Linked DNA regions of Homo sapiens. The protein of the gene in region 1 interacts with the protein of each later gene in a pairwise test. Each region holds a gene or a part of one and is shown in the gene's direction. Other genes may lie near its edges.

Region 1 (8,560 bases):
AGCACCAGCTCGAGAATTTGGAACGAGAACAGAGATTTTTAAAGTGGCGACTGGAACAGCTGCAGGGTCCTCAGGAGATGGAACGAATACGAATGGACAGCATTGGATCAACTATTTCTTCAGATCGTTCTGATTCAGAGCGAGGTAGGCAGCTTGCCTCTTCTCTAATGAAATACTAAACATCTCTGTATCTGGATTTAGGGAAGGTATGTTGGGAGGCACTGTATTTGCTTTCTTTCTAGCCAACAGAGTAACATTGTAGGTTTTATGCAATCATAATATTGTCTACAGCAGTGCCAGTGTGGACTATAAAACTTTTTGTTTTTTCCTTGAAAAAAAATATATTTATATATTTATATTATAAATTATATAATGTCCCTCAATTTAGGTTTGTCTGATGTTTTCAAATGATTAGATTGAGGGTATACAGTTGGGGTAAGGAATATCACAGAAATGATGTTGTGCCCGGTGGCTCATGCCTGTAATCCCAGCACTCTGGGAGGCCAAGGCGGGCAGATCACAAGGTCAGGAGATCGAGGCCATCCTGGCTAACATGGTAAAATCCTGTCTCTACTAAAAATACAAAAAATTAGACGGGCGTGGTGGCAGGCGCCTGTAGTCCTAGCTACTCGGGAGGCTGAGGCAGGAGAATGGCGTGAACCCGGGAGGCGGAGCTTGCAGTGAGCCGAGATCATGCCACTGCGCTCCAGCCTGGGCAACAGAGTGAGGTTCCGTCTCAAAAAAAAAAAAAAGAAAAGAAATGATGTTGTGCCTTTCTCAATCCATTGTGTCAGGAAGATACACGATGTCGAAGTTTTTACTACTGGTGATGTGAATTTTTATATGTAGATTTTAAAGTACAACACCCTTTATTTCTCTTTCCATCTATCCTAGAATATTTATCTTTGACAGAGTTAAAGAACAGAAGTCAACCAAAAAAGAATGGTTTGAATTTTACTGATTGTTCTTCCCAAAGCTTCCACCACATCAGGCTTCATATCACATTAAAAGATCCCAGAGGTGAACACTGGTGATTTGAAGTCTTACATTTGGAGAAAGGAGCTCATGAGCTCTTTAGGATTCTAAAACATGAGACAAGTGACAGAGTTTTTTTGTTTGTTTGTTTTTAGGACTCTGATTTTGTTTTTTGTTTTTGACTTTTTTAAGTGGAAATTTTCAAACATACTTAGAATAGAATAATGAACTCCTGTATACCCACCATTCAGTTTGAATAGCTGTCAACTTGTTTCATCTGTTCTTCACTACGCTCACCCTCAATATTTTTTCTGGAATGCTTTAACTCAAATCCCAGATAACATCATTTTGCCCCTAAATACTTTAGTATGTATCTTGAATAAATAGGATTTTTAAAAATGTAATTATAATGCTATTATAATACCCCACAAAATTAATTCAGATAATCTTTTTTAATATCATCTAATACCCAGTCTGTGATACATTTTCTCCAGTTGTCTCAAAAATGGCATTTTACCATTGGTATGTTTAAATCAGGATCCAAAGGCCACATTGCATTTGTTTGATGTGCCTTTTAAGATATTAATCTATAATAATTTTTTCTCTTCCCCCTACACCGTTTTGGTAGAAACAAAAACTGATTTCTACATAACATCTCAAAAAGACTTCTTTGGCAGAGAAAACATGAAGGAATATATAGGTATAGATCTGTGTGTTGTATATATGTACATATTTTTTTAAACATCAAGAGACTGAGTCATTTTTCTTATAGAATTTCCTACATCCTAGATTTGGCTGGTTGAATCCTCATGGTGTCATTTAACATGTTATGTCCTTTATATTGACTGTAAACTGGTTGGTAGATGCAGAATACTTCATAGGTGGTGCTTTGTACTTCCTGTTATGTCAGTATTGTGTGTAGTTGTTGTTGCACTTTTAATATTAATCAATAGGTTCAGGTAAGGTCATTTTAATACATTTATATAAATGTATAGCCTTTAACTTAACAGTTTTAGCAATTATTGCCCTTATTTCATTGGGTGTCATAAAATAGTGATTTTCTAATTGTGTCATTCCTCTTGTATTTATAAACTGTTTTTCTCCTATAAACATTTTCTCATCAACTTTTCGGTTATCCTGAAATAAAGTTCATACAGGGAAGGTGGGATAAATGCTTGGTCTTGGTTTTTGCTTTATCAGTTTTCCAAACAGAGTTGGTAACCTAGCAGCTTCCAGAAGTAACAAGTTTTGGTTTTACTATTTTTTGATTATATCATGAACTCATGTTTTGCTGTACTGAATGTGTTCCAATCCATTGCAGTCATCCTTTTAAATTCTTTTGAATGCTCAAACTGTCCCAGATTTGCTGAGTAGGAGCCTTTTAAATAGTTTTTTCATCCTTTTTAACGCAACCTTTTTAACACAACCCTAGGAGTTCTTGTTTTTCTGTTTTGTTATTTTTCTATGTAAAAGTTTATTTTTGTGTGGCAGTTTTCAAGAAAAGTCTACCAGAGGCAGTAGCAAGAACCTGAAGTACATGCTACATTTATCAGTAACAGTGAAATATAGCAGAAATAACCCTGACCTTGGTGTCCCAGTCTTTCCTCTATTGCTAACTAGCGGAAACCTCTTCTTAGGTCTTTAGGTTTTAGCTGTCCTTCCTGTTACCTCCTCCTTGTACCCACCCCAACTACCTCCAAATTTCAGAGAGGAGGGTGTATTTTCATCACTATAGCTCTCATTTTTTTTTAGTGTTCCCAGTGTACCTTACTTTAGCGGTACCTTACCAAGTACCATCCTTATCCTGAGCTGGCAACCTCCTTTTTGTAGTGTTATGGGGGCTTTTAGTTAACATCTGTGGTACACTTGGCTAAAGCAGTTTCTCATTTTACTTTGTTTTTTTGGGTTTTTAAAAAATTTTTTTAAACATATTTTTAAATTTTATTAAAATAGAGATGGGCCTTGTTGCCCAAGTGGTCTCAAACTCCTGGGCTCAAGCAATCCTCCTGCCTTGGCTTCCCAAAGTGCTGGGATTATAGGTGTGAGCCACTGTGTTGGCCATCATTTTACTTTATTTTGACTGAGTTCAGCATGCTCTTTTGGATAGTGTGCCTTGTTATTATCTTCTAGTTGTAGGTTGGATGAGTGTTCAGTGGTGCTGGGAAACAATGGCTTCTGAAGCAATTCGGATATAGAGCCAATATATGAATTCACAGATTATTTGGACAGCTGCCTACATTTTAAAAACATCTCTAGAATCTCTAAAACTTTTGAAGCAACAAGCCCTTTTGAAAAGTATATTCCTGGAAATAGCTTCACCCTGTCCTTTTGGCCTCACAAGAATCCACTTTTTTTTTTTTTTTGAGAGAGAGTGTCTCGCTCTGTCGCCTAGGCTGGAGTGCAGTGGCGTGATCTTGGCTCACTGCAACCTCTGCCTCCTAAGTTCAAGTGTTTCTGCTGCGTCAGCCTCCCAAGTAGCTGGGACTATAGGCGCGTGCCACCATGCCCAGCTAATTTTTCTATTTTTAGCCTAGACACGGGGTTTCACCATATTGGTCAGGCTGGTCTTGAACTCCTGACCTCGTGATCCACCTGCCTCAGCCTCCCAAAGTGCTTGGCCGCACCCGGCTGAATCCACTTTTTTTTTTTTTTTAAAGCAGTTGTGATTAGTGTGAACCCTTAAAAAGTCAGTGCCAAATGTGAAACATCAGGCTTTGAATTTAAGTAAGGTAACTGAAAAATCCTGGGTTTCACTCTAGCTCTGATGGGAGAAAACAACTTTTTAACTCCTTTTTGTTTTTAACATGTGTATTGATTTATGTATATTATTGATGATTGAATATCTAGTATTTAACAATTAAGATTTTTTTTTTTATTTTTAAGAGACAGGGTCTCACTCTGTCACACAGGCTGAAGTGCAGTGGTGAGACCTTGGCACACTGCAGCCTCAACCTCCTGGGCTCAAGAGTGATCCTCCCACCTTGGCCTCCCGAGTAGCTGGGACTACTGGATCACCCACTATACCCAGCTAATTTTTGTGTTGTTGTGTTTTTTTTGGTAGAAATGAGGTCTCACTTTGTTACCCAGGCTTGTCTCAAACTCCTGCACTCAAGTGATCTTCCTGCCTTAGCCTCCCAAAGTGCTGGGATTACGGACGTGAGCCACTGCGTCCAGCAACATTATCTATTGATAGCTGAGTCAAATATGTATTTGTGGTGTTTTTTTTTTTTAATGTTTGGCTTTTAAGTCTGTATACTACCACCAAAATGGATCTCACTATAATCTGAAGACTTTTAAGTCTCAGGCCCTTATTTCAAGCTATATTTGATGCAAGAAAATTAAATCTAAGACATATACCTCAAACTCTACTTTATAATGACTTGTTTGACTGACTAGTTGAAGATCTTTATGATGAATCCTAGAAGTCTGTTGAACTATCTGTAGAATGGCACCACCAAAGGCTTGGATGGGTAAATTTTCTAGTTTGCCTATATTAAGTTTATGCTCCTGCCCACCCTTTAAGGCAACCCTGATTAATAAACAGAACTGAGAATTAGTTTGTGGTTTAATGCAAAACAGATGTTTTTAAACCACTTGGGGGTTGGGACCTTTTAATATTAAGCACTAATTCCCAAATACGCCAAGTGCTTTAGGGAGGTCCAGACGGACTGGCGTCAAAGGATTTAGGAAATTTGCTGCCTAAATTAAGACCACCACTGTATATCAGACATTCCCCTTGGCAAAAAATATTCCTGTCTCTTCACCTTGTTCCTCTGTTCTCCAGACATCACTGATAATAAGCTTGTTGTGTAACATTTCTTATACCTCTTTTCCTCATGCTGTTAGTTTTTGAAGGTGCGCTATACTCGATAATTAATGTTCTTCTTTTTTTTTTTTCCTTTGGCAGAGGAGATTGAAGTGGATGTTGAAAGCACAGAGTTCTCCCATGGAGAAGTGGACAATATAAGTACCACCAGCATCAGTGACATTGATGACCACAGCAGCCTGCCGAGTATTGGGAGTGACGAGGGTTACTCCAGTGCCAGTGTCAAACTTTCATTCACTTCATAGAACCCAGCATGACATAACAGTGCAGGGCAAAATATTCACTGGGCCAATTCAATACAAACAATCTCTTAAATTGGGTTCATGATGCAGTCTCCTCTTTAAAACAAAACAAAACAAAACAAAACTATACTTGAACAAAAGGGTCAGAGGACCTGTATTTAAGCAAATACTTAGCAAAAAGTGGGGCAGAGCCTCCCAAGGAGAACAAATATTCAGAATATTCATATTGGAAAAATCACAATTTTTAATGGCAGCAGAAAACTTGTGTGAAATTTTCTTGATTTGAGTTGATTGAGAAGAGGACATTGGAGATGCCATCCTCTTTCTCTTTTCTAGTTTGCTCATACTACATTGAGTAGACACATTTAAGGATGGGGTTATGAACCCTTCCTGAGCTTTATGGTCCTAAAAGCAAAATAAAAACTATTCGAATGAAAAGACAAGAAAATCAGGTATTAATCTTGGATAGCTAATAATGAGCTATTAAAACTCAGCCTGGGACAGTTTATCATGAAGCCTGTGGATGATCAATCCTTTATTATTATTTTTTTTTTTTGAAAAAAGCTCATTTCATGCTCTGCAAAAGGAGAGACTCCCATGAAGCCTTTTGAAAGGGATCATCATGCAGCTCAACTTTCTGTTGGATTCCATGCTAAGCAAGCTAACCTTATCCTGCATTGTTAGCACTAGGCACCCAGCTGCCACCTCTCCATCCTGCTGCCCTTAGGCCACATGGGAGCAGTCCATGCATGACAGCCTCTATCCTACAAGGCCTATGAGTATGGATTGGGGGGGCCAAAAGGAAAAAGCTCCATGTGCCTCTTTGTCTGCGTGGGTCAGAAGAGTTGTGCACGCAGATTAGCAGGCCAAGGTCTGAGCCACAGCAGCATTTTTATTTCAGATTTTGATAACTGTTTATATGTGTTGAAAACCAAAATGACATCTTTTTAAAGCTTATCCATAAAAAAAAATAGATGTCTTTTATAGTGGAAAAACACATGGGGAAAAAAATCATCTATTTTGATGCAGCATTTGATAATGATAAAACACCTCACACCTCACTCTTTATAGTGCACAAAATGAATGAGGTCTGGGCTAGGTAGAAAAAGGGTCAATGCTATTTTTGTTTTTAGAATCATTACCTTTTACCAGCTTTTAACCATCTGATATCTATAGTAGACACACTATCATAGTTAACATAGTAAGTTCAGCACTTGTCTCATTTTAATGTAAAGATTTGCTTCCATTTTCCTACAGGCAGTCTCTCTCTTCCTCACAGTCCCACTGTGCAGGTGCTATTGTTACTCTTACGAATATTTTCAGTAATGTTATTTTCTTCTAAGTGAAATTTCTAGCCTGCACTTTGATGTCATGTGTTCCCTTTGTCTTTCAAACTCCAAGGTTCCCTTGTGGCCCTCTCCCTTACCCTGGGAAGGCCTCTTGGAGACCTTACCCCTGGCTGTTTGGACTTTGTATACTTTAAATAATTTAACTACCCTTAATTACTTAAAAAAAAAAAAAAGCTTTATGATTTTCATAACTTATTGCTGATTTTAATGGATTGTTAATTTCAGTCCTGTAGTTTTATTTTATGTTTAGATAGGGCTGGGCAAGGAAAAAGAAAATAAAGACAACCATATTTAGCAGTGCAGTTGAGTTGTGTGTTAATGTTAGACTATCCCTTTGTGAGTGACACTTTAACAGCATTCACTGCTTCTATATATAGTGTACCATCTTGGTCATACATTACGCCTCAACATATACTTGTGCTCTTCCTTTGCCTCCAGAAGAAGTTTTTCCTTGATTGTGCTATGTTTCAGTGGAAGAAATTCTTTGAAGTAGATGTGAGTGAAAAACTGCATGCCTTTAGAAGCCCAGTATCAGAACTTGCTACGTTTCAGGTGCTAGGGACTTAATGAAAAACAGGACAAAACAATTCCTTTTTGTGGCCCAGGTAAATTATTTCTGGTTTCACTTATAATTACTAATGGCTGAGTCAAGATGTTGTCTCTGTGTTTGCTTACTCTTGATCAAGTGTGAGACAGTTTGAAGACTGTGCTACCATACAAAGTGAATGAAGCCAGTGACTAAGCTTCTGTTTGTTTTGTTATTCTCATGGCCTTCGCTTGCATTATTTGGGCCTTCATTCAGATGAACTTGAGGTGCCATTTTGTTGCATATGTACAGGATTATGGGCTGGAAAGCATTTGTTATAAACCTATAGTGCACATTTTAACTGCCCCCTAAATTACCCTTCCCTGGGTTTGTTTTCCTTGGGGTGGTGTAGATTGTATGAGTAAGAAGTATTAATTTTTTAAAAGACAAATCAACTTTGAAGACACAAAAGTTAATTGGAAGAAATAAAAACTGTGAACGAAGAATACCTTTCTTTTTGTACCATCCTTCTTTATGAAGGCAAAAACATGAATGGGTATCCACACCTTAAGAGGTAACTATCTCCTAAATGTCTGTTGATACCAAATCAGTATCAATGCCAAATCAAATGGCAGTTTGAATTATAATTGCCATTCCTGTTCTGCAATTTAAACAGGAGCCTGACTGGTAACTCCATATAACCTAACTGCATGTGGTTTAATGTGCCACATTAATAATAATATTAACTGCCTCAGGTAGGACACAAAGCCATTCTCATGATCTGTTCTCTAAATAACTTTTGGGAGCATCCTTTAGCTACACTATTATTCAAATTGCAAACAAGTCTGGAAGTTCCACTAATCTTATTTAGGGTACCCTATTTATAGAACACCTGAGTGACATTTATATTAAAAGGTACAGGTAGGCCAGGTGCAATGGCTCACACCTGTAATCCCAGCACTTTGGAAGGCAGAGGTGCGCAGATCACTTGAGGTCAGGAGTTTGAAACCACCCTGGCCAACATGATGAAATTCCGTTATCCACTAAAAAAAAAAATACGAAAAATTAGCTGGGCGTGGTGGCATGCACCTGTAGTCCCAGCTACTCAGGAGGCTGAGGCAGGAGAATCTTGAACCTGGGAGGCGGAGGCTGCAGTGAGCTGAGATCGAGCCACTGCACTCCAGCCTGGGCAGCAGAGCGAGACTCCGTCTCAAAAAGGTACAGGTAAAACCTACTGTAGCGCGTTATGACTAGAGGATTCTGAAGTCACTGCAACTCAAGTTTCTGGTTAGAATAGGTATGAGAACTCCTACAGAAATGCCTTTCTAATCTCCCTGACAATGACTGCTTTTAGCATTATGAAGGAATTTTAAGAGGCAGTGAGGATTATTGAGGCAAAGTTGCTGACCAAAATCAGGTTCCCAACAGTTAACCCAGAACAGTAAAGTGTGGGAAAAGCAAGTGTTTTAATTACACTGTAATCCCAGTTCCAACATTGCTGACCCTAGTTAAGTTGCTTGATTTCTTCATGGAGCCCTTTTCTTCCTGAAAAGCTATTATAAGTACTACCTCTATCTTGAAGGGTTGTAAGGATTTAAGCTGATATATATAAACTACCACCCCACTCCCTGACTGCCATCTA
Region 2 (4,559 bases), on another chromosome or scaffold:
AAACTATCTCTCTAGAAGGCCTGATGGGCCACAACCTGGGCCAGAAGCATTCAGTTCAGATATGAGAATGGTGGGTGTAGGGGCAATGGCCAATGGGCCATGGCCGGAAGGAAATTGTTACAGAGTAGTGGGAAGCCTGCAAAGACTGGCTTCTGTCCGTTTTGCCTTGGTTTGCCCATGTGGATATTCTTTGCCAATATTTTCTGCCCAAGAGCTGTGCTTGCTAGAGTTGGAAACTGGATGAAAAGGTGAAGACTTTTTTTCTTCTCAACAGCTCACAAAGAAAGTGAACAACATAGAGACGGGCTGGGCCTTGGGGGCCACCTTTCACCTGTTGCAGTCTCTGGGCATCTCCCATTGAGGCCACGTACTTCCTTGGAGACCTGCATTTGCCAACACCTTTTTAAGGGGAGGAGAGAGCACTTAGTTTCTGAACTAGTCTGGGGACATCCTGGACTTGAGCCTAGAGATTTAGGTTTAATTAATTTTACACATCTAATGTGAACTGCTGCCTAACCACTCAAGAGTACACAGCTGGCACCAGAGCATCACAGAGAGCCCTGTGAGCCAAAAAGTATAGTTTTGGAACTTAACCTTGGAGTGAGAGCCCAGGGACAGGTCCCTGGAAACCAAAGAAAAATCGCATTTCAACCCTTTGAGTGCCTCATTCCACTGAATATTTAAATTTTCCTCTTAAATGGTAAACTGACTTATTGCAATCCCAAGACCCATCAATATCAGTATTTTTTTCCTCCCTATACAGTGCCCTGCCCACCCTTATCTGCACCCACCTCCCCTGAAAAAGAGAGAAAAAAAAAAACCTGGTTTTGCTTTCCATGTATAATTCAACAACGCAAAATGGGACCATGTCAGAATCTGTATGATCCTATTCTGTGTTAGCTCCAATCAGCCAGCTGAGAGCCATCCTAAATATTAATAGGATGAGAGAGTAACTCCTAACTGTGCATAAATTACAGCCTTAAGAAAGAAGGCCACCCGGTCTCTGGGGACATGTTTTGGGAGGGTGTGGCTGCCTCATATAGCCTACCTTTGCTTTAATCAGCATTTTATCAGTCAACTCTGGGATTAATGAACATATCCGACTTTATGGGTATGTGTATATTCAGTGCCAGTACCACCTCCCAGGCTAATGTGTTAACAGTGTTTTCTATGATTCTAAACTTGTTTTCTTTGTATTTCTAAGAAATACAACTAGGCCCTAACTTTTGGTCTGTGGTCAGAGGTCAGTGTCTGTGCTATTCCAGGATCTATTATTTCAGTTTGCCCTTTTATTCTCTCCGTTTGTAACAGTACCTTCCTGTCCTGGTCCCTGATCACTTTAGCTAATATCCTTTGAATTATTTATCTAGTTCAGAGTTTCCAATACCGTTCCTGACAAAACCCCACTTGGATTTGGTTGGCTCTCTCAGCCCACATCAGTACAGTGGACCAACATTTCCAGGGAGAACCATATTTAATGTCCCTCATGCTCTCTTTTTGAATCCAAGTGCTCAGAGCTCTTGACTGTGAATTATTTACCCCAAATTCATTATCTTGCACTTTTTTTTGAGATGGAGTCTTGCTCTGTTGCTCAGGCTAGAGTGGAGTGGCGCAATCTCAGCTCACTGCAACCTCCGCCCCCAGGTTCAAGCGATTCTTGTTCTCAGCCTCCTGAAGAGCTGGGATTACAGGTGCCCACCACCATTCCTGGCTAATTTTTGTATTTGTAGTAGAGATGGGGTTTCACCATGTTGGCCAGGCTGGTTTCCAACTCCTGATCTCAATTGATCCACCCGCTTCCCAAAGTGCTGGGATTACAGGCATGAGACACCGCGCCTGGCCTTATCTTGCACTTTCAACATAATCATCCCTGCTTCTCATCTGCCCTGCAGTGCTCTTGGACCTGGAAGATCTCCCTGTGGTCTGGCCCCTTTGCCTTGGTTGTTAACCTCCAGCTTCTTTGCAGGAGTGTATTTCCCCAAAACTTGTGGCTTTCACAGTAGACTCCGTTTCCATCCTCTCTCTCACAAAGGATGTTAAGTATGCCTGGCCCTCACACAGTCCATGGGAAACCTTATTTTTAACATTACTCCATTGAGTCAATAAATATTTACCATCTGCTGTGTGCAAGTTACTAGGCAAATTTCTGTATCCTTGTCCCTAAAATTCTTGTCTTTAAATTCATTGTGGAATTTCTTTAGACTTCACACTGACTTTTATTACTAAGGTCACCTTTATACCAACTGCCTTCCTCAAAATGCTTATAATGAAATAACAGAATCTTGAGTTGGAAACAGCCCAAAGAAATAATCCAATGTTGTACTCAGTGCAGAATTCCCTAGAATTTCTAACAGGTTGTCATTCAGCTTCTGCTAAGCCATGTTCAAACAGCTTATTCCATTTGGAACTGCACTGATATTAAAAAAAATTCCTTATATTGAGCTGAAATCTACCTATCTTCTAAGTGGTCTTAGTTCTGCTCTAATCTCTCCTTCCAAAATCTTTGGATCTTTTGAAAAAAGTTCCTCCCAAGTTCTTTTATAAGTGACATGACTTTTAGACCCCTTCCCATCTTTGTCAACAAAAGTAGGGTGCCAGACCAGTCACAGAACACTAAATGTCATCCATGTTTCCTTCAGTAGAAACCAGCAGTTTTAAAAGAGGTAAGCTGTGTTCACTAAAGACTGTTCCAGCTTGACAAATGCAGAGATATAAGTCTCTGGTCTTTAATCACTGTGGGGGCCATTTTGTAAAACACACATACTGTCCAGCAGACTCCTTTGGTCATCCCAAATACCTCTGAACTCCAGGGAAGATGCATTCTAACTCCACGAACTTACCTATTTTGTTAACCTTGATTAGACCTTCTGGAGAAGTAACCAATTTGTCCATCTTAGGAGCAATTTGGAATGAGAGTTTTTATTTTTTTCTGTAACGCCCATCCTGCCTGCAGTAGACCCTTTGGGCTTAAGAGGTCCTACAGATTCTAATAGTTTCCTCTTTGTAGATGTGTTAACATATTTAAAATACTTAGGACATGGCCTGGTACGTGACAGATGGTGTTTAACATCATTGTCATATGAAGAACACTCTCTGTGGGCCAATGGAGGTGTGCCTTAAAATTCTTCATCTTGCCTGATTTTGTTTGCATAACTTCTGGAGAGTCTGTGTCCTCCTCATCTAGGCCACCTTTCCATTTTTTGTGAAAGATGACCTTGTCCCTGCAGTCTCCGCCAGGAGTCACACAGCTTTTCACAGCAGCTGCCATCTTTAATTCTTTTTCCTGAGATTCCAGCAAGGTTGTGACATTGTCACTTTTTTGTTCTAGACTCTTTTAAATTTTCTGCATTTGCCTGAAAAGCACCCCTGTAAGAATAGATTTCTCATGGCTCTAAAAATTATTCCCAAGAATACCTTACTTGGTTCAAAAGCAGACTGTTTCTCTTCATTTCATCTCAAATCAGACTTCTGGGCAAGATGTTCTTTAGAGTAAGCAAACCTACAACCTAAAAATCTCTTCAAGAGGCATCTCTGGTCTTGTGACGAGACCTCTTCAAAAACCCACAGTAAAACTCCCCTCCCTCCAGTTGGCCACCAGTCTGCCACCAAACATGAACAAATTCTGCTGCTAATCGGTTTCCCTTGTGATCTGGTTCCTGAGGTCTTCGGATCTGTGCAATGAATTATTTATTGTTTTATTAAACCGACAGTGGTGTCCCAGAGAGGAACCATAAATAAAATGGAAATCTGGTGCTGTGATAAAGTAATAACTAGCATTAATGAGACCTGGTTTTCCTTTCAGAAAGTCCAGTATACCTGTAACAAAGGTTAAAGCAATTTATATTTAATTTGCATTCTGATGTTAACATTTAAACAGCAATTCTAACAAAAATGCATCGAGTCTAATTCTTACCTCTATCAAAAAACAACTGTATAAATTTATGACCAACATTAAAACAAAAACAAAATGTAAATTTTCTCTTTAGAAATGATTAACTGGAAATGAGTGAGACAGCACCTTGTGGGTTTTTTAGTAATAAAAAGCTCTTTTCAACCAAATTGTAAGTCTTCCTTCGAAGTTTTTTCCTTTGGTCTGGCTAATATACGCTCCTCACAGCAAATTATCATTCATTATTTGGGTGCCACAGGCCCATTAAGCAAAGAAGAAAAAGAGAATTTTAATGTAAAGTAAGTTTATTAAATTAAATAAGATCTTGAAAATATGTATGATGGGTCCTGGGCAGGATGTTCTTTTTCATCAACGTAATCTTTCTTTAGGAGAGGAGTACTCATTTGCTTGCAAAGGCCATAATCTGTTCCTGGAGAAAAAATAAAAGTGAATGAAACTCTTAACACAGTAAGGTGAAGAAAATAATTATTGTAGATAATAATCACGTAGGTATTCTTCCCAAGTGTCCTTGTTTTATTTCAGCTAAAAAAAGAAAAATATACATACATATACACACGTTTTAGAGACAGGGTCTCACTCTGTTGACTGGGCTGGAGTGCAGTGGTGTGATCATAGCTCACTGCAGCCTCAAACTCCTAGGCTCAAGCAA

What was found.
Region 2: the proteins of MXI1 (region 1) and ENTPD5 interact in binary tests that used the Homo sapiens proteins (3 or more experiments, as listed by UniProt).

Annotation. Positions count from the first base shown.
Region 1 is NC_000010.11:110,279,942-110,288,501, forward strand, and holds the end of MXI1 (max-interacting protein 1), read left to right. Parts: coding exon 1-144; intron 145-4,882; coding exon 4,883-5,046; 3' UTR 5,047-7,424; downstream 7,425-8,560. UniProt on the Homo sapiens protein: Transcriptional repressor. MXI1 binds with MAX to form a sequence-specific DNA-binding protein complex which recognizes the core sequence 5'-CAC[GA]TG-3'. MXI1 thus antagonizes MYC transcriptional activity by competing for MAX.
Region 2 is NC_000014.9:73,962,730-73,967,288, reverse strand, and holds the end of ENTPD5 (nucleoside diphosphate phosphatase ENTPD5 isoform 1 precursor), read left to right. Parts: intron 1-274; coding exon 275-361; 3' UTR 362-4,059; downstream 4,060-4,559. Other genes in the region: COQ6 (ubiquinone biosynthesis monooxygenase COQ6, mitochondrial), read right to left, coding at 4,290-4,319. UniProt on the Homo sapiens protein: Hydrolyzes nucleoside diphosphates with a preference for GDP, IDP and UDP compared to ADP and CDP. In the lumen of the endoplasmic reticulum, hydrolyzes UDP that acts as an end-product feedback inhibitor of the UDP-Glc:glycoprotein glucosyltransferases.